Linked DNA regions of Homo sapiens: all the other regions are linked to region 3. Evidence: fine-mapped expression QTL. A gene starts in region 3. Each other region holds a variant in brackets. All regions are shown on one strand. Distances are between the middles of the regions.

The links. PIP is the estimated chance that this variant, and not a neighbour inherited with it, causes the effect.
Region 1: its variant is the best candidate, but not a certain one, in a credible set for the expression of CLIP4 in fetal neocortex (Walker 2019, PIP 0.51).
Region 2: its variant is the best candidate, but not a certain one, in a credible set for the expression of CLIP4 in T cells (TOPMed, PIP 0.70).

The regions. Positions count from the first base shown.
Region 1 is chr2:29,226,184-29,236,259 of GRCh38, reverse strand. ALK (ALK receptor tyrosine kinase) reads left to right here. Exons shown (of 29, transcript NM_004304.5): 14 at 2,564-2,695; 15 at 3,812-3,956; 16 at 7,194-7,376; 17 at 8,588-8,686; 18 at 9,186-9,338. Among named protein-coding and RNA genes, the nearest start is that of CLIP4, 120 kb to the right of the region's middle. The variant C/T (reference allele first, on the strand shown) is at 5,196.
Region 2 is chr2:29,021,779-29,031,854 of GRCh38, reverse strand. It overlaps TOGARAM2 (TOG array regulator of axonemal microtubules 2), which reads right to left. Exons shown (of 20, transcript NM_199280.4): 11 at 9,547-9,697; 12 at 8,664-8,769; 13 at 7,481-7,716; 14 at 4,844-5,002. Among named protein-coding and RNA genes, the nearest start is that of TOGARAM2, 46 kb to the right of the region's middle. RefSeq lists an enhancer at 7,627-8,128. The variant C/T (reference allele first, on the strand shown) is at 5,405.
Region 3 is chr2:29,110,299-29,120,374 of GRCh38, reverse strand. CLIP4 (CAP-Gly domain containing linker protein family member 4) reads right to left here and starts at 4,960. Exons shown (of 16, transcript NM_024692.6): 1 at 4,710-4,960. It overlaps LOC105374386 (a long non-coding RNA gene), which reads left to right and starts at 5,631. Exons shown (of 3, transcript XR_007086265.1): 1 at 5,631-5,706. RefSeq lists silencers at 4,310-4,549, 4,740-5,099.

The DNA of each region.
Region 1 (10,076 bases), 120 kb before region 3:
CTGGTTCAGACTGGGCAGCCCCTCCATCTCCAGATGAGGAGGCAAGTCCAGGGAGGCGGGGTGCCTCACCAAGTATAGCCCAGCAAATCTCCAACAGAGCTGTCAAGAACCCAGACTGAGCAGGGTGTGATGGCTCATGCCCGTAATCCCAGCACTTTGAGAAGGCTGAGTCAGGAGAATCGCTTAGTTAGTGACTAGCCTGGGCAACACAGCAAGACCCTGTATCTAAAAAAAAAAAAAAATACAAAAATTAGTCAAGCATGGTATTTCGTACCTGTACTCCCAGCTACTCAGGCGGCTGAGGCAAGAGAACTACTTAAAGCCAGGAGTCAGAGACCAGTCTGGGCAACATAGCAAGACCCTGTTTCTTAAAAAAAAAAAAAAAAAAAAAAAAAAAAAAAAAGTCGAGCCTGGTAGCTTGTGCCTGTAGTCCCAGCTACTCTGGAGACTAAGGCAGGATGATTACTTGAGCCCAGGAGTTCGTGGCTACAGTGAGCTATGATCATGCCACTGCACTCCAGCCTGAGTGACAGAGTGAGACCCTGTCTCAAAAGAAAGAACCCAGATTGGACCCTGAATCCTGTGCTCTGCCCAGCTGACAGCTCACATCCCTCAGACCCATCCCCAGGGCCAACCCTCAGGGCACATTCCCTGCAACTCACGCCTGTGCCAGGTGGCAGTGAGCAGGGTCTCCTCCCAGGAGTCTCCCCCCAGGCCAGGACATAGCTGCACATACATATGGGAAATGCCAGCTCTCTACAATAGCAATTCAGAGCCTTCCACCCACACTAGATCCACTCTAAGAAATATCAAATTATTTCCATCGTTAAATCCAAAATTCCATGAAACAAACTGCATCTCGGCTATTTATCTGGAAATTTCTGTAGTACTCATTGCCGGCACCCCTGAGCGCTTTAGCGTAAGAAGTGGCTCAAGAAGAATGGCTGCATCCACTAGCTGGTTACGAAGCAGCATCGATGGAAATGTGATGTTTTACTGGCTTTTTTTCTATTAAGTGAAAGAAAAGTCACTTTCCTCCAAGGTCAGGCTGATGTTTGAAGAATTCGTCTGAGCTGTGGTGGCCGACAAGCAGGCGTGGCTGTTTTTGAAGCACCATCCTACTTCTTCAGGGATTCCAGGATTCTGTTACAGAAATCTCCAGCACAATCCTGGGGACTCTCTAATACCTGAGCCCCAACCAGGAGCATATGTGGGCCCAGAAGTGAATCTAAATTAGAACAGCAGCTGGCTGGGCACGGTGGCTCACGCCTGTAATCCCAGCACTTTGGGAGGCCAAGGCAGGCGGATCACCTGAGGTCAGGCGTTCAAGACCAGCCTGGCCAACATGGCAAAACCCCTCCTCTACTAAAAATACAAAAATTAGCGGGGCATGGTGGTGTGCACCTGTAGTCCCAGCTGCTTGGGAGGCAGAAGTTGCAGTGGGCCAAGGTCGTGCCATTGCACGGAGTAAGATGGCAAAAACAAACAGATAAGAACAGCAGCCATTTACTCAGTTCCCACCATGTGTGAGGCGCTCCACTAGATGCCTGAGGGTAGTACTTGTACTACGCTCAGTAAATGCCACAACGACCTGTGTTGTCTTCATTCGCAGCCACACTGGAAGATCAGAGATCGAGGGCCCCTGTCACAGTTTCCCAGGGTGGGTGGAGAATCCAGACTACCTGATTGCAGGGCTCACTCTACAAGGCAAGCAGAGGGGTGTGCCAGGGATTCCGGAGGGAAAAAATGGAACATTAGCTAGGAGGAATGAGATGTCCAAAAGGGAGAACTGATCTTCCCAGAGAAGAACTGGGAATAAAACTTGAGTCTGGCCTCTTGCTGGTTTTTTTCTCTCCTCCTGATGCTTCAGAACTGTGACTTCTCAGAAAACCTCGATGGCTCTCAGTGAGAGAACGGCTCTCATAGAGAATGAAGTCCACTCCTTGCAGTGCCTTCAAGGCCTCTAGCCATGATCACACTGTTCCGTTTAATTCTCTCTACCCACCTAATTTACGCTCCCTCCAGCCCCATCTCACCACATAGGACCTTTCCCATTCTTTCTTGGATCTCTTCATCCCACAGGATCGAAACAGGTCCTGGACAATCTCTCTGTCCTGATAGACTTCTGGGCCAAAGAGACCCTTGTGCTTTTCCCCCACGCACCCCACTCACCCACTTCCCTCTGGGCTCATGCCACTCTCTGCTCTTGGAATGACATAACTTTGCCCCACTCTCTGTGAAAAAAACAAAAACAAACAAAAAAAAACTCCCTATCCTTCAAGGCTCAACTAAAAGCCGCCTCCTACAAGCAGTCCTCACAGCAATAAAACCTTGCTCTCTCTCTCCCAGTTTCTCCTAGCATTTTCTGTCTAAGCTATCCTTGTGGTCCTTCCCTAACACTGCCCAGAGTGACAGTTATTGGTATATTTTTCTGCCTCCTCAACTCAACTGTAAGTTTTTTGAGAGAGAGTCAGATCCTGTTTTTAAGCATAGAAGTTCTGTCTGCTGCAAAGTGGAGAACTCTGGTTTGGCCACAAACCTAACGTGCTTTTTGTTTCTACAGACAAACCAGTTAATCCAGAAAGTCTGCATTGGAGAGAACAATGTGATAGAAGAAGAAATCCGTGTGAACAGAAGCGTGCATGAGTGGGCAGGAGGCGGAGGAGGAGGGGGTGGAGCCACCTACGTATTTAAGGTATGGTGTGTGCTGCCAGATTTCCACCAGGTTCCTGTGCATCTGCAATGTCAGAGCCTCATGACAGCCCTGGGATAGAAACACCTCAGATGCTCTTATCCCCGTGTAAAGATGAGCAGGGCCAGGTACAGTGGCTCATTCCTGTAATCCTAGTATTTTGGGAGGCCAAGGCAGGAGGATCACTTGAGGTCAGGAATTCACGATCAGCTTGGGCAACATACCAAAACGTTGTCTCTACCAAAAAAAATTTAAAAATTAGCCAGTTTTGGTGGCTTGCACCTGTAGTCCTAGCTACTTGGGAGGCTGAGGCAGGAGGATCATTTGAACCCAGGAGTTCAAGGCTACAATGAGCTGTCATCACGCCATTGAACTTCAGCCTGAGCAATAGAGCAAGACCCTGTCTCTAAAACCAACAAAAGAATTAAAAAATAAAGATGAGCAGACTGAGATCCAGAGAGATATAGAGTCTGTCTGTCCAGGAAAGGGTAGAACTCTTCTCTTACTGATACATCAGCCCAATTTCACCATGCACAGCCTTTGCCATCCTACTTTCAGAGAGTCCCACTGTGCCCTCCTGGACCAGCTCTCTGCCCTAAGGTGGACTTTGCTGACATCATCACAGCCAGGCCAGAAACTGAAGACAGAGGCCACCTGCTAGGTCCTCCCACAGGACTGTGATGCTGAGGGCTTAACCTTGAATCTTTGGGGGTCAGAGCCAGAGACCCCTAAGAATGAGGGAGAGAGAGCATAGAGAGACCTGCTTCTAATCACCAGCATCCAGACCTCTGAGGCCAGTCTAAGGAGCTTCAGGAAAGGGGCTAGAGGAAGTAGAGGAAGCAGCCTCTAAGATCAACCCCCACCTCCTGGTATCTATATTTTGCTCTTGGTATATAGGTCTTGCTTCTCTGGTTGAACCCTGACTGATAGAGAAGCTGGCGGAGCCGATGGGCTATTGTAACAAGGGTTCAGAGCCCGCAAACCACCTCAGACCACTGAGAGGTCACCAGGTCACCCCAAAACAGCAAACCCTCAGTCAGGTTGAATTTACCAGAGCTTAGGGGCTCCAGGGGGAAGCACAGCTCGGTTTCTCAATGTCTGAATGTCTCCCCTGGTCAGATGAAGGATGGAGTGCCGGTGCCCCTGATCATTGCAGCCGGAGGTGGTGGCAGGGCCTACGGGGCCAAGACAGACACGTTCCACCCAGAGAGACTGGAGAATAACTCCTCGGTTCTAGGGCTAAACGGCAATTCCGGAGCCGCAGGTAAAGCGCTGCAAGCGTGCCCTCTCCCAGAACCTCTCCCAGGCCTTCAGCTGGGCCCCGATGCCATCGCATGCCTGAGGGCATCTTAGTCACTGGCACCTGGGATGCTAGGAGCTCTGAATATTGGTACCGATATCCAGGGAGGGAGGGCAGGCAGCACCCTGGGAGCCCTGCAGGCCATCTTGCTGACCTGGAGCTTGGACTTGTAGAAGGTCACTGAGAAAGTGAGGCAGGGAGCAGCCGTCAATCAGCCAGCTGGCCCTCCCTGCAATTGTTAGAGCCTCCCCCTGAGATTCCTTCTTCCTCCAGGGGCAGATGGGCCCCCCAGTTAGGATATGAGCAGGTGAAAAAAATCTGGGCAATGTCAGGCCTCCTAGACCCCCATGGTACAGACCTCCAGGCCCTGGGCTGCCAGACCCAAGCGTATCCCCGCTGGAAAATCTCTTACTTGACTCTCCACGGCTGAGCTCTCCTCCCTCATTAATGGGAGCCAGAAGCACAGAAATGTGAGACAGGCAGGGAAGAGAGTGTCAATTCCCTGATTCCTCTAAAGTCAGCCACCCCTAAAGACAGAAAATGCAATTCCTTTTTGTATTTTCTTTTCCACACAATCAGACTGTGGGAGGATCTTAGAAGGCATTTAAGATTTGGGATTAATTAAAACAAATGTGCAAACTGTCTCTCAATTGAGAGACGGCTAGAATAGAAGAGTAGAAACAGTCATGGGTCCACCCTGAGGATCTCCAGTGACGTTTGCAGCACCGAGGCCCAGCACCCGAGAAACCCTGAAGCACCTCTGCCTCTGTTGCACATGTGCTGTCAAAACAACCTGCAGGTTTCCAGGCAGATACCATTCCTGTTTTACAGGAGAGCCAATGGGCTCACCAAGGCATGATGACTTTTTTTTTCTCAACAGGGCCGAGCTGTTTAGTGATAGAGACAATTTTTGTTTTTTGTTTTTTGTTTTTGAGACGGAGTCTCGCTCTGTCACCAGGCTGGAGTGCAGTGGCACGGTCTCGGCTCATGCCACCTCTGACTTGCAGGTTCAAGCGATTCTCCTGCCTCAGCCTCCCGAGTAGCTGGGATTACAGGCACACGCCACCACGCCCAGCTAATTTTTGTATTTTTAGTAGAGACGTGGTTTCTCCATGTTGGTCAGGCTGGTCTCAATCTCCTGACCTCAGGTGACCCACCTGCCTCGGCCTCCCAAAGTGCTGGGATTACAGGCGTGAGCCACCA[C/T]GCCTGGCCAGACTCAATTCGTATTTTTAAAACACCGTTGTTCTGATTTTGATATGGGTTATTTTCCTTTCCACACATTTGCTCGAAGGCTGCAGAACGGGTATGGGGGTCAGAAACCTCCTCAGCTGGGGGCTGAGCAGGATGAAAGCACAGCGCATGGTCTCCGTCCATCTCGTTCTGATTTATTTATTACGCGCTTACTCACAGCCGTGCACAAACACCAGCGCCAACTTCTGGCCCCTAACGCGCCTAAGGGGCCTTCTCTCTGCCACATGACAACAGCCTTGACAGGCCCACACCCTCCCCTGAGAGCAGAAGGGAGGACAGCGAAACAAACCCAAGCTCAACACCCACCCCTGGAGGTTTCATGGCTAACAAAGTCCCCCCAGCTTGCCTGATGGCCTCGCCTCAGCTCTGCTTGTCCCCATTCTAGATTCAAGCTTGTTCCTGACCTCAGCTTCATTTTCAAAACCTGGCTTCCTCTTTCTAGCAAGACAGTCATCCCACCTACAGGTCCCTCTGGGTCCCAAAGAATCTGGGCCACAAGTGCTTCCAGAAACCCTGCCAGGCCGGTTCACCCGTAGGGTTCCGGCAGACACACACACTGCTGTTTCTGCCTTCCACCATCAATTTCCAGGTCCCCAGCATGCATCATCTGCTGCAGCAGAAAGGGTTTTAGGGTTTTTAGAATACCTCCACCCTTTCCTATCCATCAGTTCTGCGTTCGTGGGATTCAACCAACCACAGATCAAAAATACTCAAAAAAAAAAAAAAAGATGATTGTGTCTTTACTGAACATGTACAGACTTATTCCCTAAATAATACAATAACTATTACATAGGATTTACCCTGTATTGGGTATTATATGTAATCTAGAGATGATTTTTTTATAGGAGAATGTGCAAATACTATGCCACTTTATATAAAGGGACATTTATTTTGGTGTGATGGAGGGATCCTGGAACCTCCACAGATACTGAGGGACAACTGTAGATGTCTATTCAAATGTCCTATGGAACAGTAGGCATAGGGGATATCCTGGAATCTCAAAGGTTAGCAGAAGAGATTTCTTGTGGTCAACCTGTGGCTACATTCAACCTCGGCTCTGTAGATAGCTTCCTTTGTAAGAGCCCAAAGCAGCCCCAGGCATTGGGAAGCACAGCCCTGAGGCTGCCTTTGTTGCCAGGGTATCGTCCACCCACCAGGGCTTCTGCTCCTGACCTTGGAGCAGTTCCTGAGCGCCTGGCCCTGGAGAACCTCTAAGCAGGCTGAGCCCAGGTGTGAGGCTGTCTGCACGCGTGTGTTCTGCCTCTCGAGCCCCTGACGCTCCCCACCCCTGGCAGTTTGTGGAGCATTTCGTACACTCACTGTCTCCTTTGAGCGGAACATCAACCCCATCAGGTGGGTCTTATTATCCCCAAGCCACAGGTGAGGAAACACAGGCTCAGAATGGGGCGTTCTTCCCCAGGGTTTCACAGACAGCAACGGGCTCTCTGGTCAGCCTAGTCCAGGATTCCTGCAAGGAACTTTAGTGCAAGGTTTTGACATGTGGCTGCTCAAAGACTGGTGAGTCCCTTTTCTCGTTAGGACGGGAGGCAGTTAATGAAACGAAGGTCCAGTGCTACGGGGCTTGGCTGACATGAAGAGAAGATAGAGGAACGAGTTTAGTCGCCATGCTGCCTGTCTGCCCACGTCCCCCCATCCTTAACCAAGCACAGCCCCTGCTTTTGAGCCAGAGAGTACTGGCAGGAAGCAGGGGTACAAGGCACGCTCTCATCTGGGTGTACTCAGCTGTGGCCAAACAGGTCTCCTAGGGCAAGCAGCCTCCTGGTTTTCCTAGTGTGGATCTGAAGCCCCCAGGCCCCACTGAAGATGGGCCCCGGGAGCTGGAGCTGGTGCGGGCGCCCTCCAAGGCGTCCTGCATCCTGCTTCTCTGGCCAGCATGGCTAATTGAACCTTGCCAGCATCCTCACGCAGGTTCCCTATCTCTTCCCGCAGGTGGTGGAGGTGGCTGGAATGATAACACTTCCTTGCTCTGGGCCGGAAAATCTTTGCAGGAGGGTGCCACCGGAGGACATTCCTGCCCCCAGGCCATGAAGAAGTGGGGGTGGGAGACAAGAGGGGGTTTCGGAGGGGGTGGAGGGGGGTGCTCCTCAGGTGGAGGAGGCGGAGGATATATAGGTAAAGATGATTCGTGTTCAAGGTGTCACTCCCTCCCTGCTTAGTCCTAGGCTCCTCACCTCCCTGCCCTGCCCTCCCCTGCCCTCCCCTGGCCTGCCCAAGTGTGGACTGTGATGTGACTGCACGCCTCCCTCTCGACCTGCCTGGACCAGCCAGAGGCAGGGTGCTGGCTTTCGAGCCAGCACCCTGCCTCCAGGCTTCCTCAGCGACAGCATCAAGATCCCATGTGATTCTTGATGTCCCCCAAAGTCGATGATAAAGAGGCTTTGGCTTGCCAGACTAGTCTCTGAGTCACCCATAAGGACTCCCCCAGCCTCCCTTGGATGGCCTGGCCAAGCCAGCTCCTGAAGGGGCTGGTTTGTGGTTTCATGGACTCCTTACTCCTGCTCCCTACCTCAGCCCACCAGCTTCCTGAAAGGCGCCGCTGTGCCTGCTGATGGGAGCTATTCCCGAGGGCAACTGCAGGCAGGCTTAGCCCAGCCCTTCAGCAAGCAGCTGCCCATTGACCCCAGCTGCCTCGTCTGGGCTTCAGAGCACAGTCAGCAGAGCCTTCTGAAGCTGAGAGGCTGGGAGACGATGGCTCCCCGCTCCCCACAGATTAGGACGAATGCATGCATGCTCTGTGGTGTTCGTGTCTGTGTTTTGCATTGACGCTGTGTGTAAGATGCTTGTGTTAACCACATGCTCTTCTTTTCCAAGCTGGGTGGGTGGGAGGAGCCCGAGGGGGGAGCCCAAAGATAGCCCAGCCCCAGATGAAAGGAGGGACGGGAGCCTCAGGGCACAGGGGCTCATTTCCCGCAATCCGCACAGCCCGCCACACCCCAACCCTGACCCAATGGGGCTGAAGAGCAACTCTTCAGTGCTACCATCCTGACCAGTCCTGGGAGAGGCACCATGGGCATATCCCAGCCTGGAAAGACTAGAACTTTTTGGACTCTTGCTCACATTAACCACTTCTTAGTGGGCCACCGGCAGAGTGGGAGCTGGCCTGGACCTGAGGGGAAATTAGCCACACACCCAGCATCTACTGAGCCAAATCCCACATGCAGCCTCTGTGCCCTGAGCCTCCCTTCCCTCCCCGCATCCCTGCCCCTGAGGTCCCCAGTGACCCCCTAACTTTGGCCAGAGCTGCATGCCCCACTGACGTGTGTGTGTGTTAAGATTTTGGCACCCACCCCCCATGTTAAACTCTGCTCTGGTTTGCTACTCAGGCGGCAATGCAGCCTCAAACAATGACCCCGAAATGGATGGGGAAGATGGGGTTTCCTTCATCAGTCCACTGGGCATCCTGTACACCCCAGCTTTAAAAGGTAGCTTCTCTGCCAGGCAGCAGAACAAACTTGCTTAGGTCAGTCCTCCCACCAAGCTAAAACCTCAGAGTCTCTGACCTGTATCCAGGATACAGAGGCACAATTATGGGTCCCTGGCAGGCAAGCTTCCTATGGCGCAGGTCACCACATTTTCCAGAAGTCAGGATGTGTGCTTTAATATGAATGCAGAGGCAGAATCCTAGGAAATGTAACAGTAATAGCCCAATACCTGCACCAGCCAACCTAAAGATCATGTGCGTGGGCTTCTCTCCACCACTGACTCAAAAGCAAACATCCATAGACACCCATGCCCGCTGCCTCCGCTGCACTCTCTATATGCACAGGAAGACTCTTCTACACAGTTGTGCTTCCAGTGGCTATGGGACCTAGGAACAGGGACCACCAGAGCACCCACAGTGACCACCTGGAGACATAGTACTGAGGCTGGGAGTGGGGAGGCAGGCTCGGCCCAAGACTGACCCTCCCTCCTTGTCACTAGTGATGGAAGGCCACGGGGAAGTGAATATTAAGCATTATCTAAACTGCAGTCACTGTGAGGTAGACGAATGTCACATGGACCCTGAAAGCCACAAGGTCATCTGCTTCTGTGACCACGGGACGGTGCTGGCTGAGGATGGCGTCTCCTGCATTGGTAAGGGGGCAGGGCCAGGGGAGGCAGAGGGGCCCATAGCCTGAGATTTGGCCCATGACCACAAATGGTTTCTGGGTTCCAGAACACCCTGGATTCGGTTTTGTAAACTTTCTGTCCCTCCCCTACCTGCCACAGCTCGAGTGCTCTGACCACTGTGTGAAAGGTGGGTCATGGCTCCTGAAGGAGTCTTAAAAATCCTCTACTATAGAATAAGCCCTCTACCACCCCCACCAAGGGGCCATCCTGCCTCCACTTAAACATGCCCAGTGACAGGGATCTTACTGCTCCTAAGGTTCTCTGTTCCCTTGGGCAGTTTCAGAGCTGGGGACCTGTTGCCTTAACCTTCCTCTCCTAGGTTTCCTTACAGCAGCAGCTGTGCATGTGCAGTGTTTGAAGACAGTGCTCCCATTCTCCTCCTCTTTTTTTTTTTTTTTTTTTTTTTTGAGGCGGAGTTTCACTGTTGTTGCCCAGGCTGGAATGCAATGGTGTGGTCTCGGCTCACTGCAACCTCCGCTTCCCAGGTTCAAACAATTCTTCTGCCTCAGCCTCCTGAGTAGCTGGGACTACAGGCGCCCACCACCATGCCAGGCTAATTTTCATATTTTCAGTAGAGACAGGGTTTCACCTTTTGGCCAGGCTGGTCTCAAACTCCTGACCTCAGGTGATTCACCCGCCTCGGCCTCCCAAAGTGCTGGGATTACAGGTGTGAGCCACCGCACCTGGCCCCATCCTCCTCCT
Region 2 (10,076 bases), 89 kb after region 3:
GCCCTTACTTTATTTTCCACTAAGGAAAATCAGAAAAATAAAAACTGGTGATTTCCATAGCCTCCAATGACACTGCCCCATGTGTGAGGGCAATCTTTCTATGTGCTATCTCAGAAACAGAAGATAGCATTGCTTGTCGGTATTTTTCTTCCTTAGGTCAGGTAAAGTTCTTAGTGATTGCTTTGCAAAAAATGTGGGACTTGGTCATTCCTTCCACAGTGAGAGTTTGCTTCATTGATATCTAATGGATATCCACTGACGTTGCCATGCCTTTTCTCATATACAATAATTATTCATTTCAATTGCAAATAATAGTGTAATATTTCTAAGAAACTTTAAACAGATTAAACTCAATGATTCTCCAGAGAGCATCCAAAAATCACTTCTGAAAATAAATTTAAAAATTTACAAAGAAAGGCTCATAGTGTAGTTCCTACAATGGAAAATTTAATTCAGAAAATAATACTCTGAGCAACACTGACTAAGTTTGTGAAGGTGCAGATAGTATAACTACATCATAAACTGGGCACAGTGGTGCACACCTATTGTCTCAGCTATTTGGGAGGCTGAGTCAGGAGGATTACATGAGCCCAGGAGTTCAAGGCTGTAGTGTGCAATGATCACACCTGTGAATAGCCACTGCACTCCAACCTGGGCAACATAGCAAGACCCCATCTCTTAAAACTACAAAAACACCTATGTCCTAATCACTGCCTAGCCCAACTGAAGCCCAACAGCAACTGTGAAATGCCTGTCATTGTAAGATACATGCCAATTTTAAAAATATTAAAACCAGGGAAGGATGTGTGTCTTGAAATCAATGAAGTATGGGAGTCCCCATTGTGCCTCTTGGGTGGCTCAGTAAATAACAGTCACTTTTAATGATAGAGAGAACACAGAGAGGCAGACTTGGAGAGGAGGCAATGAGTTCATTTAGGGACACTCAGCACTGCAGATGGCAGTAGGACATCAGATGGTGGGTCCCATGGAGGCTTTAGAAATGGGGACTGATGCTCGAAGAAGGGTCTGGAGTGGAGGGCAAGAATTGAGAAGCCTCCAACTTTGCTGGTGGCTGGAGCCACCAGAAGTAAAAGCCAGGAGAGGGAGATGAGGACTAAAGACACCTTGGCAGCACCTACACTCAGGTGGCAGTCAGGGGCAGAATGGTCACAGAGGGACAAGGAGAATCCCCGGAGTACAGTGCCATGGAAACCAGGAAGGACAGAGTTCTAGGAAGGAAAAGGAAATGTAGTCACCATCATCTAGTGTAAGGGATGGGTCAGAATGGAGAGGAGTAGCAGATCTGGAGAGACTTTAGACCTTGATTTCCATCCCTCTAACAACCATTTAAAACCAACAAGCAAACCAAAACCTTCTACGTCCTTTTTTTTTTCGTTGCATGGCAGAGTTACACAACACTTTATTATATAGTAGATGCTCTAGTAGATGCTACACAAAGAATAGCTGTTTATAGACATTTCATCCCATTCTTCCAGTCCCCCTAAACTCACTCTTCAAAGTATTTGCTCCAAGTTTAATGGCTATGTGATTTGTGATTTTTTTATTTATTTATTTTTTTGAGACAGGGTCTCACCCTGTTGCCCAGGCGGGAGTGTAATGGCCCTATTTCAGCTCACCGCAACCAGTGCCTCCTGGCCTCAAGCGATCCTCTTATCTCAGCCTCTCAAGTAGCTGGGACCACAGGCACGTGCTACCATGCCCGGCTAATATTTTGGTATTTTTTGTAGAGACAGGATTTCACTGTGTTGCCCAGGCTGATCTCAAACTCCTGGGCTTAAGAGATCCACCTGCCTTGGGTTCCCAAAGTGCTGGAATTACAGATGTGAGCCACTGCACCCAGCCAGGCAATGTTTTGTTTGCCTGTTTTTGTTTTAATTTTTTATTTCCATAGGTCATTGGGGAACAGGTGGTGGTTGGTTCCATGAGTAAGTTCTTTAGTAGTGATTCGTGAGATTTTGGTGCACCCATCACCCGAGCAGTATACATTGAACCCTATTTGCAGCCTTTCATCCCTCACCCCCTTGCCACTAGTTCCTCCTGAGTCCCTAAAGTCCATTATGTCATTCTTTTTTTTTTTTTAGACAGAGCCTTGTTCTGTCGCCCAGGCTGGAGTGCAGTGGCGCGATCTCGGTTCACTGCAAGCTCCGCCTCCCGGGTTCACGCCATTCTCCTGCCTCAGCCTCCTGAGTAGCTGGGACTACAGGCACCCGCCACCACACCTGGCTAATTTTTTGTATTTTTAGTAGAGACGGGGTTTCACCGTATTAGCCAGGATGGTCTCGATCTCCTGACCTTGTGATCTGCCAGCCTCGGCCTCCCAAAGTGCTGGGATTACAGGCGTGAGCCACCGCACCCGGCCCATTATGTCATTCTTATGCCCTTGCATCCTCATAGCTTAGCTCCCACTTATGAGTGACAACATACGATGTTTGGTTTTCCATTCCTGAGTTATTTCACTTAGAGTAATAGTCTCCAATCTCATCCAGGTCACTGCAAATGCCATTAATTCATTCCTATTTATGACTAAGTATTCCAGTGTGTGTGTGTGTGTGTGTGTGTGTGTGTGTGTATACACACATACATACATACATATCACAGTTTCTTTAGCCACTCGTTGATTGATGATGAGGCATTTGGGCTGTTTTCGCATTTTTGCAGCTGAGAATTGTGCTGCTATAAACATGCGTGAACAAGTATCTTTTTCATATGATGATACCCAATGGATACCCAGTAGTGGGATTGCAGGATCGAATGGTAGTTCTACCTTTACTTCTTTAAGGAATCTCCACACTGTTTTCCACAGTGGCTGTGCTAGTTTGCATTCCCACCAGCAGTGTAGAAGTGTTCCCTTTCACCACATCCACGCCAACATCTATTATTTTTTGGTTTTTTGATTATGGCCATTCTTGCAGGAGTAAGCAAAACCTTCCACTTCTCCACTGATATTCCTCATTTCAGCAAATGGCACTATTATTCACCATTGTTCAGGGTAAAAACTTAAGAGCATCTTCAGTTCGTCTTTGAAACCCTTACCACCTGCATCCTGTTGGCTCTGCCATCCTGTTGGCTGTTGGCCGAAGCCACCCACCACTCTCCAGTCTGAGCCTCCAGCCCCTCTTGCCTGGACTGTGGGGCAGCCATCATCTGCTGTTCCTCCTGCCTTTCTCTCTCACTACCAGTCCTGCGGCAGCCAGAGAGGCTTTTTTTTTTAATTATAAAGGCTAACACGCATGTAAAGAAACACTCAAACTCATTATTAATAAGCAGGGGGTCAAAGCACTCTAAAACAATGATGAGCTATCATTTTTACCCATTAGATGGATAAAAATTAGAAATCTAGAAATTGCCACATGCTGAGAGGCTGTGCAGGAGGGAGGCAGATGTGGACCCCAGGCAGGGCGGGGCTGCTGGAGCACACACATGCATCTGACCCACGGTCCTGCTCCTGGGCACGTCCGAGGAGGTGCCATGCAGCACAGTTTGCAGCAGGGGAGAATGGGAGGAACCGCAGGCACTACATCCCTCAGGGAGCACCCTCAGACGTGGGTACCCTACGAGAATGTCTGGCCTGGAGCTCACCCATCCAGGGTGGGCATGGCCTCTGGAGCCCTGACAGGTGCCACATGGTCTCCAGTTGGGGCGAGGATGGAGTGAGGGGTGGAGACCTACACACTCATCCAAATGGATGTGGTAGTAATAAGCCCTGAACTGAGGAGTGTGAGGAACTGGGCTCCAGCCCTAGCTTTTGAAGACAGTCAACCAGATCCTCTCGCTCTCCTGCTTAAAATCCTCCAACACCTCCTCATACTCCCACTAAGAAAACACTCCAATGACTTCCAATCACACACCATCCAAAATCCCAACTCCTGACCTTGGCCTAGGAGAACGTCTCTGACCTGGGCCTGCTGCCCACCCTCACCCCCACCCCTCACTCACTGTGCTCCACCAGGCTGGCCGTCCCCACCCTTGGACACCAAGCTTGTTCCCATCCAGTGGCCTCTGTGACATTTGCTTTGCCTGATCCTCAAAGAGCTGGCTCCGTGTAGCCGTTCAGCTCTCAACTCAAATGTCACTCTTAAAAAAGGTTCTCTGAACCCTCAGTCTAAAGCAGCCCCCCCACCAACTCCATTGCATTGCAGCCTTTACCTCCTGGGCTCAAGAGATCCTCCCACCTCAGCCCCTCAGTAGCTGGGACTACAAGTGTGCAACACCACCCCTAGCATTTTTTTTTTTTTTAAGTAGAGACAGGATCTTACTATGTTGCCCAGTCTCAACTCCTGGCCTCAAGCAATCCTCCTGCCTTGGCCTCCCAAAGTGCTGGGATTACAGGTATGAACAACCACATCCGGCCTATTTTTTCTTTATATCCCTGATATGTATCTAAAATTACCATAATTATTTATTTATTATCTGTCTCCCTCGACTAGGAAGTAAGCTCCAATACAATAGGGACTTCATTTTTCTTATTCACTGCTGTGTCCTTAATAAGAAAAAGAGTGATCATTAAATATCTCCAGAAAAAAAGGCCTGAATGTTCTTACAGAGAATGGTGCTGCGGTGAGGTAGAAACAAGAGCAACACTCAATGGGTAAGAGGGGAAATGGAAGACCAGAAAGTGGAGGCAGGGAGTAAGGACCCCTCCCTGAATGGGCTTGGCTTGATGGAAGGGATGGGACAAGAGCTGAAAGGAAAGGACATAGCTTCCGCCTACCTGCCTGTCCCTCTGCAGGATCCCAGGGAAGCTGAAGCTGTGTGCCCCAGGCCCCTCAGGGCTGGCTGGTTGGTTGCCTTCTCTGCCCCCAGGCCCCTGGCCCTGCCCTACCTGGTGTCCTGGTTGGAGTCCTGTGCCAGCCTCACCAGGTTGTGCACCAACATGTCTGTGCTGTCTCTGGTGCCCGAGAGAAGCTTCTCAGCGCCGATCTGCTCCAGCACAGCTGAGAGGTGCTCAGCCGCGTATTTCCGGATCAAGGGGTTCCGGTGGCTGAAAGGAAATCATGGCCCAGGGGTCAGTCTCAGGATAGTGGTGTGGGAGTCCCCAGGCTGGCAAACATGGATCTACCATTGCAGACCCATGCTTCATGCCAGCCAGGGGCTCCAAAAATACCTGTCCCCATGTGAGCTGAGGGGAATCTTTGAGGAAAGAGCACTCACTTTCTACGAACAGGGTGACAGCAACAACGGGAGAGGGAAGGAAAGTGACATGAAGCTACACGAGGTTCCCCAATACACCGTATGCATACCGTTCTTGGGAGCTTCCTGCACACACATCCTTCCTTTTGTCTAAGTACTCTTCTCCATCTTCCCTCCACCTAGAAAAGTCCTACCTAACCAGTGTCTCTTCTTCCTTCTTTCCCCAGCCCCACAGGCAGAATTAGACATCCCA[C/T]CCACTGCCCAAGGTAGCGCTGTCTTTGTCCCCGGGGAAGTACAGTTGCACCCTTAGGGCCCCCATCAGGCTGCCAGCTCCCTGTGGGCGGGGACCAGGTTATCTGTCTCCCTTGACTAGGAAGTAACTCCAAAACAACAGGGGCTTCATTTTTCTTTTTCACTGCTGTATCCATAATGACGAAAAGAGTGATCATTAAGTATCTCCAGAAAAAAAAGGCCTGAATGTACAGAGAACAGTACTGGGGTGAGGCAGAAACAAGAGCAACACTCGATGGGCAGAGGGGAAATGGAAGGCAAGAAAGTGGAGGCAGGGAGTAAGGACTCCTTGCTGAATGGGCTTGGCTTGACGGAAGGGATGGGACTAGAGCTGAAGGACATAGCTTTCATCCACCTGCCTGTCCCTCTGCAGAATCCCAGGGAAGCTGAGCTGCATGTTCCAGGCCCCTCGGGGCTGGCTGGTTGCCTTCTCCGCCCCAGGCCCCTGGTGCTTCCCTACCTAGTGTCCTGGCTGGAGTCCTGATTCCCTCTCTGTGGCAACCCCACTGCCCTGCTGTGCCTGACACATCCCTGGTGCTTGGCAGGAGCTTAATGCATGTTTGCTGAACTGAACTGAGACAGGAGGGAGAAGAGGGATTCATGGGTGAGTTGGTGACCATAACAAGTGGAACCTGAGCTCTATAAGAGAAACCTGTCAGAATGGCACCTCTTTCTAAGGGCCTCTGTGTCCACACTCCATCAGGAAGCACTGACCCTTTTGTCCCCTAGAGTCTCACCCCAGTGGAACACAGTGGGGGACATCAGAACTCTCCCTACTCAGCATGGTCCATGGACCAGCAGCACTGACATCTGAACCAGAATCTGCATTTCAGCAAGATCCCAGCGGACTCAGATGCACAAGCCATGACCCTGGTTCTTGTTGACAGTGATCAATTGCCTGTCCCTCCATGCCAGCACCTTTTATCCATTATCTCACATCTACCTCATTAGCTACTATTATCATCACTATTCTGCAGGTGAGGAAGCTGAGCCAAAGGGAGGCATCCAGAAAAAAAAAATACAATTCATTTCTCCTAAGTTAATTATAGACACAGTAAGCACTCAGTGAATGTCAGGAATGGGCAGGCACCTTTCTAAGTGCGCTTTCGTGAGTCAATTCAATTACCTCTCATAACAACCTCATGAGGTAGACACCATTATTATCTCCATTTTACAGATGAGTCAACTGAGACACAGAGAAGTGAAGTGACAATCAGGATGTGAACCCAGGCAATGTGGCTGGGCAGGATCTCACCCTTTGCAGTATGCTATGGTGCAATTACTAAAGGTCTCCCAGCTGGTCCAACAGGCCCCTGGGGCTACTGAGAAACCTCACGCATCAGTGTAATGATCCACTTATGGGGTGGAGAGGCCTTTTGCTGTGCGGGAGAAGCAGCTTGGGAAATGCTTTTGGTTTTGCTTTTAGTGTGGGTGTTTAATGACAGGGAAAACAAATCTGCAGAAAGGCTCCAACAGGAACCCAATACCTTCCCCTCCCCAGGAGCAGGTCCAGTGGGGCAAGCTGGAGAATGAAATTTTGCGACTTTCTCTTCTCACTGGCCCACATTTCATCAGAAAGCAACACTGCTCCTGGGGGTGACAGGAGCTCCAGGGCCCATGCTCAGGCTGCCTCTGCAGCCCTGTCTCCCGGGGCGCTCCCACAGCCACGGTGTGCTCCCCAGCCTTGGAGTGCAACGGCCCCCTCCTCTTCCAGCCAGAGGTCCCTGCATTCCCCCGGCCTGGCCGATGAAAGGTTGGGAGAGAAGCCGGATGCCCGGCACAGGGAAGCAGGGGTCTTCCTCCCCCAGCTAAGTGGGAAGCACCTGCTGTGAAGTCTGAGATGGGCCCCTTCTTCACTCAGAACCTCTGACCCATCACCCTGTCCTCTAGCATCTCAAGGGACCCCCTGCAGCCTCACTTGCCTGCTTCCCTCCCTCCCTCCCTGCACCCTTCCCTCCTTCTTTCACATCCCAGGGCCTCTCCCCTTGCCTTACCTTCCCTGACTTCCCCGCCCCTCAGACAACAGGCAGCCACATACTAGACACCCGCCGAGGTGAGGACCACCAGGGAGCGGGCAAGGGTCACATTCTCCACCATAGCCCTCAGAGACTGGCCGGCTGCTCTCTGGATGAACTCGTTGGTGTCCGCCATCTTCTGCAGCAAGCAGCGGGCGATCTCCTCGGCCTCCTGGTCCATATTCTTCTTCAAGGCCTGGAAGAGGTCTCCCAAGGTGCTGATGGCCAGGTGAGACACCTTGGACCGCAGGTTGGTGACCTTGGAGAGAGGAGAGAGGCCCTCCAGGGTGCTGGACCCTGCCAAGGGCTCTGGGACGCATGGAAAATGGGCCCTGCACCACCCTCTTCCTCCACCCCCACCCTTCCCCTGACCTAGGCCTTGCCACGCTGGAAACAAAAACCCTGCAGCCACTCTGAGCAAAACTGTCCCATTTTGTTATCATCTCAATTATTAATCCCATCATTATCATGACCATAGGAAATGTGTACACTCTGTCTTCAAAGCACTTTTACAAAGAATGTCTGATTTGATCTTTGCAACTACCAAGTGAGAAATAGGTACCATGAGAAGCACAGTAGTGCTGACTGAGGCTCTAATTAACCTGGGAGAATGTAACTGTATTTTTTCTGGATGCCTCACTTTGCAGAGGAAACAGAGACCCCAGGCCACATGCAGGAAGGCAGATGCTCCCCACACAGCCCAGGCCCCTGTGTTAACAAAACAGCGTCCTCCGTATTCATCCCCACCCCACCCCCACTGGAGCAGCCCACTCCCAAGGGCAGGGCACAGCCTCCACATGAGAACAAATGTAGCCTCCTGCCTCTCTGGACCCAGCTAGACCAAGCCACAGAGCCATGAAAGAAACGCTTTGGGAAATACTACCACTGCCCTGGAGTTGGGGATCTGGCCCTGGACGCTCCATCCCTCCTTAGGCATTTTGAGTACAGAGGACCATGCAGGCCGACACATGGGCATGTGGGATTCTAATTGTTTCCATTCTCAAAGATTACAAATAAGGAAACCCTAGGCCTCAGTTTTCCAATCTGAGAAATGGGTGGCTACCTCCTACCTCAGTGGCTGAAGGCTGAGAAATAAGCAGGGATCCCCATGTCCCTGAAGCCACAGCCCCTCCACAGCTGCTAGCGGACTGCATCCAGCAGCTGCAGTGGGGCCAAATGCACAGCACACAGGCTGGGGGGCCTCACCTCCCCAGTCACCACCAAGCACACGTCGTGCAGCTTCCCGGTGAGGACCTCTGAGTGACAGGCTGCCAAGCGCTGGATGCTCACCAGACCCTTCTCCTTCATCTGCCTGAGAAGCAAGGCCAGGCCCTGTTGCAGAAGGGTGGAGAGGGAGGAGCCCCACCCCTCTGCAGACTAGGGGCCCCACATCACACACCATCACGGTCCACCGTCACCCGCAGCAGGGTGCCATTCCATGGCCTCAGAGCAGGGTTTCCCGGGGTAACACCCTGGCCTGGAATCCTAACCACTCAGTAAAAGCCAGTTTTATGTGGCCTCTGGCCAGCCCTCAGCTCTGACAGTGCTGTATGGAAGCCCACCCCCCTCCAGGACCTGTCTGGGTCCTTGACACAAAGCCAACACCTTCAATAAAAGGCACTTGAACAGGGAGGACTGAAGGCAGGGAGGGCTTCTCACAAATGTTCTGGAGGCCGAGGCATTGCTTTGCTCATGACTACGGTCCTGCATCCCCACAGTGGGAGGAGCGCTCGGAGCAGATTCAATTTCATTCAGAGAAATAAAGGGCTGCGGCCTTCCTGGGCCCCATGGTGTGGAATCAAATGCATCCTTGCCATGCCTGGCTTTGGTACACCACAGAGCCATGCATAGGCTGCTTGGAGGGTCGCAGGGCACACACATAAAGCCAGGAACACCACACACTCATGCACACACGCACATAAACACACATATCTATATGCATGCACAGTCCTCCCTCCAAACTGGCTTTTATGCTCCATGGTGCTGGAACCCCAGAGTGGGAGAGGAGGGAAGTTGAGGGGCAGAAGCTATTCTGCAACAGCCCCTGCTTCCGGCCAGAACACAGCACGTGGTGGAAGCATCTCCTCACCAGTCACTGCTGTTGAGGCACTGGAGTGCATCCCTCAGCCCCAGCTCCGGGTTCGAGAAAGGCCTCAACTCCTTACAGGCTCTAAGATCCATCTCCTCCTCTTCTTCCCATTCAGGAGACCCCAACGTGAGCACCGCAGGTAATGAGTTAGCTGCATTCACAAGAAAGAAACAGCAGGCTTCACGCAGCAGGACAGGCAAGAGCCCGAGTGGCCGCTCCTGCCACCGCTCACCATGGGAGGCCGTGCCACCACCCTGAGCCCACCTAACAGGGAGGGTGTACAAGTGGAAGTGCCTGGTGAGGCTAAGAACCCAGCGCCTGGGCCTCCCTCCCCAGGAGCCATGAAGACCTCCTAACTCTACCTTTGGCTGACTTTTCCCCTTCCTGCCCTTGCCAATGCGATTCTTATAAACAGATTTGTGATAAGCCACATGATGTCATGGGACTAAACCCCCCAGTCAGGGGGACACCTCCAAACCTGCCCCATCTGTGGTGGGGTGGGGCCCCCTGAGCCATCAATGAATGATCTC
Region 3 (10,076 bases):
CCCCACTACAATAAAACAGTCATTTCATTGAGCTCACTGTTGTCTTCCTAACTTGATTCATGTTTTCTTAATACTGGCAGGAACTGGTAAAAAGTAGGAGGCTTTCTTTTTCCTCAAAAATCGTATGCTTATATGGATATAGATGTTATATATTAGGTAACCTAATCCAGTTGTTACTATTTTAAGGTATTCACATTTTCTTGGATGCTAAAATTACTTACCACCAAATACTTAGAAGCATTTTGACATTAACCTTGCCACATAAATAGGAAAATGACAAGTTCATGGAATTAGTGTTATAGAGCAGCGGTGATCTTCCTCAAATACTATCAATTCCAAACAGTAATGAGTATTTATTAAGGAACCACTATATACAAGACACTATTCTAGATGTTTCAGCAAATACAAAAATGAGTTAACAGATGGTCCATGCTTCTTAGGTAGTTTACAATCTATTAAGGTGAATAAAATACCACTAATAACTATAGATTATGAGGCAGAATGGGATCTGCTCCATCACATAAGTACCAGGAACATTTGCAGTTGGAGCTTCTAAGAATCATAAATGGTGAAGAAGGTATCATCTGTGATGAGTCTTGAATGATGAATAGGTATCAATATAAAAGGGGATCCCATTAAAAGAACAGTAGGCTGGAACTTGGGATATGACTAGGAAAACAGTCAGAGGTGAGGCTGTAAGGGCTTTTTAGGGCTGTACTGAGGAGCAAATACCTCATCAAAGACCAAACCACTTACTTTCATGAGCACTGGGAAACTACTGATTTTTTTAAAGAGAGTAACATGATTAAAGCTGTTTTAGGAAAATTAATCTGACTATAATCACGGTTTGGGACTCAGACATGTTTTTATACTCTTAATTCTTCAGCAAAAAGATTCAGTGGATATCTGTCTGAGTCGGTTAAGAGGAGTCACCACATGACTTCCCTTTCAAAGGGTGGAGTCTCCCATTCAAAAAAAAAAATTTTAAGTGATCCCCAGAGCACCTTTCATTTCCTTGTAAACTGTTGAGATCCTCAAAGATACGAACTCTATCGTACACAACTAGCAGTCACCACAGGAGCTAGAATAGTGTGTTACACATATTTAACTAATATTCAAAGCTTAGATTCAAAGTGGAAAGAGGATTCATGCAATCAGATGTAACCAGCTTCATTCTTTTACATATTAGATACTTCAAGTCCAGAAGAAGCTACAATATTACCTGACCAATGCAGTGAACATTCTTTGTATTTTGTCTTTGTTGCGTTTTTCTCTAGTTACATTTCCTTATTTTCGTGAAAAACTTAACATTCTACCTTTTGTCCTCCCAAAGGAAACTATGTACCCCTATAAACTTCCTTATAGTCTCAGATTCATTTCCTAAAAGCAATTCCTGGATCTGAAGACCTACAACACCTGGACTCTTGGTCAAATGTCTAAGTATACTGATCTGAACTGAGTACACACTTTCATTCCAAATCCAACTATGGTTAACTGGTGATAACTGATTATAAAGTAAGCCTCAGGTTAAAAATATATATATATATATTGGCCCTGCCAGGCATGGTGGCTCACACCTGTAATCCCAGCACTTTCGGAGGCCATGGCAGGTGGATCACCCAAGGTCAGGCATTCGAGACCAGCCTGACCAACATGGCAAAACCCCATCTCTACTAAAAATACAAAAAATTCGCTGGGCATGGTGGAGGGCACCTGTAATCCCAGCTACTCAGGAGGCTGAGGCAGAAGAATCGCTTGAACCTGGGAGGCAGAGATTGCGGTAAGCCGAGATCCCGCCACTGCAGTCCAGCCTGGGCAAGAAGAGCGAAACTCCATCTCAAAAAAAAAAAAAAAAAATTGGCACTAATCAACTGTCTACAGAACAGGTGCCTCTGATACTAACAATAGCTAGAATCAAATTCCCCAAACTCTGATTTCTATAGGAATTTCACCCTACTCATCACTCCAAGTTAGCTGTTAGCAAAAGCATCTTACATAACGTGGCTCAAATACCTTGTGATTTTTTTTCCAAGACTCCTTGGTCCATGCTTTAACACAGAGCAGTAATAAATGGGGATGTCCACTAGCATCTTCAGGCTGGTTCAGGACTGTCTGGACCCCATAAAAGGGCCTTACTGAAGCCAGGAGACTTCAGATTTGAGATATGGTTCAAGAGTGTCCTTGAGTTATTCAACTAATAGGAGACCAAAGCTGTGTCTACATTAGCTGGAATCATGAGGCCCTTTCATTCAATTTCCTGTAATACTTTGTTATGAGTCATCATTCTCCTGAGATTCCAATCTCACCACGTAAGTATTTAAAGCATAACTCCAATGATCCTTTTATTTGCTACCTACATAACATCTGTACAATCTACTAAACAGGTATTTACAGTACTGAACACTTAGTTGGCCTTAGAGAGAATTAAAAATTGAAATACCTGCCCTGAAAAAGCTATTTATGCATTTAACAAATATTTATTCAGTTTTTCTTACTAAGTTCTAAGCTATGCAAAGGTAAAGAAACCAGATCTGTCCTTGCCCTCATATAAATTACAGCCTAGTGTTGATTCCTACCAGAAAGTTGAAAGTAGTAAGTGCTATGACCAAGGACAGCTGAGTCCTATGAAAGCACAGATTCAAGAGGGTCAACGAAGGCTTCCTGGAGACTAATAAGTTAAAGCTGTGGCATCTGACCAGCTAACTACTAGCCACATGTGACTATTTAAATTAATTTAAAAATTGGCCAGGTGCAGTGGCTCATGCCTGTAATCCCAACACTTCGGGAGGCCGAGATGGGCAGATCACTTCAGGTCAGGAGTTCGAGACCACCCTGGCCAATATGGTGAAACCCCACAGCAAAAATTAACAGGGTGTGGTAGCAGGCGCCTGTAATCCCAGCTGCTCGAGAGGCTCAGGCAGAACAATCGCTTGAACCTGGGAGGCAGAGATTGCAGTGAGGAGAGATCAGGCCACTGCACTGCAGCCTGGGTGACAGAGCAGAGCGAGACTCCGTCTCAAAAAAAAAAAACAAAAACAAAAAAAAGAGAGAGAGAAAAGGAAAAGAAAAAAAATATTAAAATTTCAGTGCTTCCACTGCTCTAGCCCCATTCAAGTGGTCAAAAGCTATATGTGGCTAGTGCTACCATATTGGGTAATGCAAAAAGAACATGTTTCTGGTCTCCGAAAGCTCTTCTAAACAGCACTGAAGGAAAACAGTGCAGCTCACTCTCCAGATGAGAAAACAATATACAAATGCCTGAAACAAGACACAAATAAAGGTTAACACACTAAAGCAAGCCTATAGCTCCATAGTTCATTATAAATAATTAACAAGGGAGCAGTAAGCCTAAAAGTAACCAGAGTTTGAGGTTTGAACAGGGAGAAAGAGTGAAGTTGATTTTATATAATCTAAAGATCACTAGTTTCAAACACGTGTCAAAATTGGAGTTGTCATAAGCTATGAGAGACAACATAGGTCACTTTTTTAAAAGCCCTTGCTGGTGGGACTGTATGTGGTAAACACAAAATGTCTGAAATGAATCCTACAAATAGAATACCATGGGCTAAATCTTCTACAAAACAGAAGTAAACACATTCCATGCATGGCTAGACTCAATCTTACAGTCCAGATAGACCGTATCAAATGAAAGCATTTAAAAAATGCATCATATTTACGAAAGCAAAATAAGCTGGAACCAGGATGGTTCTCCAACATAAAAACGCAGACCAACTAGACTCCAGCAGGTTCAAGTCTCTGCTTTCCTCCCCAGTTGCTCAATGCCCCGCACCACGTGATCCTGTGCTGTTTAGACGACTCACTTTAAATTGTGCACAAGATTCACAAACAACAAACGTCAAAGTGAAAGTGAAGTACAATTTAAGTGCTGGCGGATGTTCCTGAGGAAGGTGTTTACTGAAACCTTTCAAAGGCGCCCGTTTTATACGATGATGGTGCTACAATATGAACGCAGTCTAGTATCTCAGAACATACAGCAAGTTATTGTCCCATAGGAACATCATCCTCTGATACGTATCAAAACACTGTCTCAGCACAGAGCTGAAAACCAGAGTCTGGATGACGTGAACAGCCTGACATCTAATTCAAAGCTCTACCATCATAAGCAGTGAATGGGATCCTTAAGGATGCGGGCTCAGCTCCAGCGCTCCTTTCAACTTCCCCTCCCAGGTGCGGATGGTTCAGAATTAAGGGATCTCAGGTAGCCAAGGACTGCAAGGACAGCCATTTGGTTTAGCTTTGAAGACCCACTGGCCAAAGGTTTCTCGACAATTTAATGCGCAAGGGGAGTCAAGTGAGAAATGGGAAGAGGCCGCGTTGGAAAGCCACTGCGCGTGCGGGGACTCTCGGGGCAGCCGCGGCTGGCGGTCGTGGCCCAGAGCCCAGCTCCGCCGCCGGGTCCCGCACACCCCGCGCCCCTCAACCTAAAGTTGGGCCGTCCGTCAGCGGCCGCCACGAGGAGTCCCCATCCCCGCCGGGTGGGCCGCTCCGCCCCGAGAAGGCCTCCCCGCGGCCAGCGACACCGGTGCCCACGGGAGGCGGCCGCGGGGCTTCCACAGCCCCCAGCGCCTCTGCGCGACCCTCCCGGGGCCACTGACCTCCCCGCGGGCCCCCAGGGCCGCCCACCCCGGCCCCAACCCCGCCGCCGGCCAGCCCGCGGCCCGGGGGGGCCCCGCGCGCCCCCGGCCCACCTGCCTCCTCCGGGTCCTCTCGGAGCGGCCGGCTGGGGACGCGGGGGCGCGGAGGAAAGGCCGAGAGGCGCGCTCCCGCCGGCGCTGTCTCCCGTGGCCGCCCACGGAGCCTCCCGCCGCGCCGCTCCACACCTCTCCGGGCCCCTCCCGCTGCCTCCCACGCGGGGTGGGCGCGCGCGCAGTGCAGGCGGCCGGGCGGCGCGCAGGCCTCGGCCACGGCCCCGCGCACGCGCTGGGGACTCGGTGGGGACGGAGGAGGCAGCGCGCGCCTGCGCTGGCTCGCCTGGCTCCCGCGCCCCCGCACTCCCCAGCAGTCAGATGATCGGGCGCACGCGGGGCCGCGACCCCGGCTGACAGCGTCTGCGGGGTGTCGCAGTGTTACCTCCCCCGCCGCGAAGCCAGGCGGCCCCGGCACGCCGTGCGTGCCCACCGCCTTCACAGCCCTCAGCCTCGCGGCCTCACGTCTCTAACCTGCGGCGCCCCCACCAGCTGCTGGGGCCGGGGACCTAGTCTTACCCGTCTTGGGCTCCCCAGAGTCCAGCCGAGCGTGGTCAAGAGTACATCCACCAGTTCCCTGCTGGCAGCGCTTGCTGTAAAAGGCCTAATCCGTGCTACACCCACGTTGAGCAATTAGTTCATATCTCCTGCGGCTTTGCTGCCTCTTCACCCACGTTTTCTCCTGACCCCTTCTCCGTCTCCCAAGGACCAGACAGGGTGAAACTGTGCACCTAAAGTCGTGAACTCTGACAGCCTGACTCTCTGTCATCTGGTAACAAGAAAGCGTTACTGGACACATAGTGAGTCCCCTTAATGAGGAGACCTAGTAAGACCATGACCGAAGTTTGAAACATGGAGACAACAGTGTTACATCTATCAGCTGTCTCTGAGGCCTACAGCGGCTGCTTCATAGAGGCTGTACTTCTGTGTTCAGCGCGCACAGTGCCTGGCAGGAACAGATGTTGAATGAACGTCTGTCAGTGTCTCTGCAAGAGCAGAGGTAAGCGCTCACCGCACCCCGGAGCATCTTTTCCTGTTAGAATCATTGATTTCAGGGACTGGAAAAAGCCCCCTTCCCACTTGCCTGAATCCTCCTTACAGTGTCTTCCCACCAAGCAGTGGTTGAACACCTCCACTAACAAGGAACTCATTACCTTTTAAGGCAGCCATTTAATCTTTGATCAGCCTTTTGGAAATTTTCTACCTTAGGAGCTAAAATCCAGCTCCCTGCATCTCTCCCTCACTGGATTTTGTTTCTGCCCTGGGGACTCTTAAGTCTGACTCCAATTCATCCAAGACACACATTACCTGTCCCTTAGGCTACTCCTGATATGACCTGGTCACAATCCCACTCACCAGCATGTTGAGGGATTCTCTTGGATGCATTCCAGCTTGTCCAGAGCTCTCTTAAATGTGATTATCAGGAATGAGTGGGTGGCCTGCCAAGTGCGGAGAGGAAAGAGACTGCCACCTCTTCTTAGGTCCTATGCTTAACAACATTCACCATATCAAAATAGTTGCTAGGAGCAGTCACATCACATTGTTGAATCGGGTGGAGCACACTTGACTAAAACCCACAATATTTGAATACATGACCATCCCTGACCCTGGTCAGCTGCCAGTTTCTCTGTCTCTGCAGGCTCAGCATCTGCGAGTGCTCTCAGAGATAATGTGACACGGATACTTCCTCCTCCCTCTGAAGAGTCCACCTCCCTTTCCCTGCTTTCATCATACCCTCTTCTTGTCTGACCCACCCATCTCTTTAGCTGGTTAAAAGAAGGAAGGCAATCTGCCCTTGGTTGGCTTCAAGCACCTATAAATGAGGCCAATTGTCATTGAACCACAGAAAGTCATAAAGATCTGTGTGTAACAGAGTAGCTATTGGTGAAGTTTCCAAACGTATACAGTTCACTTTTATTGCTGATTTAAATTATCCATCTGAAATACCACTATTAGTAGGTGACAAGGCATGGCTAGCTCAGTTGTTCTTAGTTATAATAAAGATCTCTGTTAGAACCAGCCAGGCCACTGGCTTTATCTGCTACACCCAAACACTGTATGATACATAGGCAAATTCCCAGGATACCAAGCCACCAGAGTCTCCCACTCACTTAGTTGCCTTTGTTCAAAAATCTGACGTTACTTCTTTATACCATCATCAAGAATGCAAGTGCTCGTTGGAGTCATGCTTCCTAGAATACCTCGTGACATACAAGCTTTAGAACCAGGTATTGCCCAGTTAACCAGAGTGAGACTGGACAATGATATGTGGCCAGAACTTGGAACTTGAACTATTCATTGGGGTGGGAAGGCACATGGGGATGTGGACCAACTGTAGCTGCTGAGATTCAATTCTATCTGGAGACACAAAGTTCCTGAAAAGTATAGCAATAATCCACAGCGTCAGGAGGTGATCAACTTACTGGTCAACATCACAGTGTGGAGAAAGGGCATTACTCACTGACCACTGTAAGGCACTTGACCTATGGAAATCTTGTCTTCACTTTACAAATGAAGAAGCAGACTCTGGGAGGCTGCGTGACTTGCTCCATGTAGCCAGGGGCAGAAATAAGATTCAAACCTAAGTCTGTCTGATCTGAAGGCCTATGTTGATTCACTACTTTGCTAACCTACACAGGCTGTCTTTGGGGGCATTAAAGACCCAGAATGGCTGCATAGAGCAGCATTCAGGAATTCAGACACTCGGCAGCAGGAAGATCTGTCAGCAGCTCTCAGGACCCCGACCATGATAAAAGGGTTAGAGGAAATAGCAAAAGAAGACAAGGTCACTGCTTTTACATGGACTGGATATGGGATGGAATATCATCAGTTTCTAATTTGTGAGTGTATAGGGGGCCTAGGCCCTTAGGACCATGAGAGACACCCAACTGTCAGAATTGGGGCACCAGATTGGAGTTCAACTAGCAGAAGTGCTTAAATGCAAAAGATCAGAGCACTGGGCAGAGCCCCTAATATCTTCCTGTCTGTGATGTTTACAGGTGTGATCATCAGCATAAAAAGCCCAACAGAATCAACAAAGTATTAGAAGTAATGTTAGCTCAGCAAGGTTGCCAAGTACAAGATCAGTTTCTAAAAATCAATAGTTTTGTCTACATCAGCAGTAAGCAACTGGGAAATGTAACAGACAATAAGAAACCATTCACAATAACAATAAAGTTTAACAAACTCTAAAGCATAATATCCAGGAATTAACCCAACAACTTGCAAAAACTTTAAGGAGAAAATTTTAAAACTCTATTTAAGGACATAAAATATTGAATAAGTGGAGAGATACAGCATGGATAGGATGACTTTACATTGTAAAAGTATCCATTTAGTCTCCAAAGTAAATGTTATGGCAACCAAAATTCCAGCAGAAACTAAATTTTTAGGGAACTCAACAAACTTACAAAATATATAAGGAGAAATAAATTTTAAACAGTTAAGTCAATTATAAAAACCAGAGCAGACCTGCCATGCCAGATATTATGTCATTGCCACATAGTAATAAAAATATTATGGTACTGGTATAGGAACACATAGAGCAAATAGGAAACAGAATGAAGAACTCAGGAGCAGACCCACGTATAAATGCTACCTCCATTTACACAAAGGTGGTACCACAGATCAATGAGAAAAATATAAATTATTTAGAAGACGGCATTCGGGAAACTGGCTTTAATTTATCAAGGAAAAATAAAGTTGAGAGCCCCATGTTCTGCCATATACAAAGGTGAACTCCAGATAAATGGCAGACCTACATATGATACAAAAGAAAATGCAGGAGACTATCTCTATAATGTGGGTTAGGAATTTACTTCATAAAACAGGTTTGCAAAAGCACAATCCTTGAAGCAAAAAAAAATTGTATGACTTGACTGCATCACAATTAAGGGTTCTGTTCAGTTAAGAATACCATAGAAAAAATTAACAGATGGCTGACAAATTGGAAGAAAACATGTGCTATGTTCAAAAGCAACTAGGGATTAATATCTGAAATGCATGAGGAACTTTTCACAAATCAAAAGGAAGTCAATATAAAATATTTTAAAGGCCAATATAAAAATGAGAAAAGTATAAGAATAGACAATTCACAGAAGGAAAAGCCAGAATGGCAAGCAAGCATTAAAGAGATGCTCAACCCCACTTGTAATCAGAGTGGGAATATAAAGAGTGTGACCCCATAGCCACCAATATGCTGGTCTATGTTTTAAAACCCGCTCCCCAGGGAAGGAAAAGTCCTAACGTACAGTGTTTGCCAATTTCCATGGTGCAAATACTCTGAGCACTGCCAGTTTCCAGCTACCAGTGTAGCTTGAGGTCACTGAACAAGAAGTTGGGAAGAAATGTGCTTTATCAGCTCTCATGAACTGTTTTCAACACACCACTGCTTCACCCACCAGCATGGCAGAAATCAGAAAGATAATCCCAAATATTGGCAAAGATCTGGGGAAAGATGCACTGCTGATGGAAATTTAAACTGGTAAATATATTCTGCAGATCAACCTGGCAGTGCTTAGTGAAAAAAATTAGCAGTATGCTTTATGACTCAGCAGTCACCCTCCTGGATATGCCTCAGAGAAACCCTTACAGTGGTTCTATAAGCACCTTGTTCATGCAGTTTCCAGGAAGTCAGTTTCTCATTCACTAGGTGACCTTATTCAGTCTATGGCTTTAAATATTGACCAGGCGTGGTGGCTCACACCTGTAATCCCAGCACTTTCAGTGGCCGAGGAAGGATCACTTGAGGCCAGGGGTTCAAGACCAACCTGGCCAACATGGTAAAACCTGGTCTCTGCTAAAAATACAAAAATTAGCCAGGCATGGTGGCGTGCACCTGTGATCTCAGCTTCTTGGGAGGCTGAGGCAGGAGAATTGCTGGAACCTGGGAGGTGGAGGTTGCAGTGAGCTGAGAGCATGCCACTGCACTCCAGCCTAGGGGACAGAGTGAGACTCCATCTCAAATAATAATAATAAATAAACAAATATCATCTCTGTTTTCCTGATTTCCAAATTTCTATCTCCAGCCCTGAACCTCAGATGTATATCCAACTGCCTACTCAACATCCATTCTACAGCATACATTACATATCACAAATAGAACATGTTCAAAATGGAACCCTTCCCCATAACCTTCCCTATGTCAGTAAATGGCAACTCTATTCTTCTTTTTGCTCACTGGAGTCATCCTTTCTTCCTATCATATTTTTGGATTCTCCAAACCAAACTCCCTGTCTTCATTCTTCAAAAAGTTTATGATATCATTTATTAAGTAAATTCACATACCATAGAAATCCTTACAAATCAGTAGCCACTGGAGACCCCAGGAACCTCCTACTGCTTCTACCTGGGCTTGCCCTCCTCTAATCC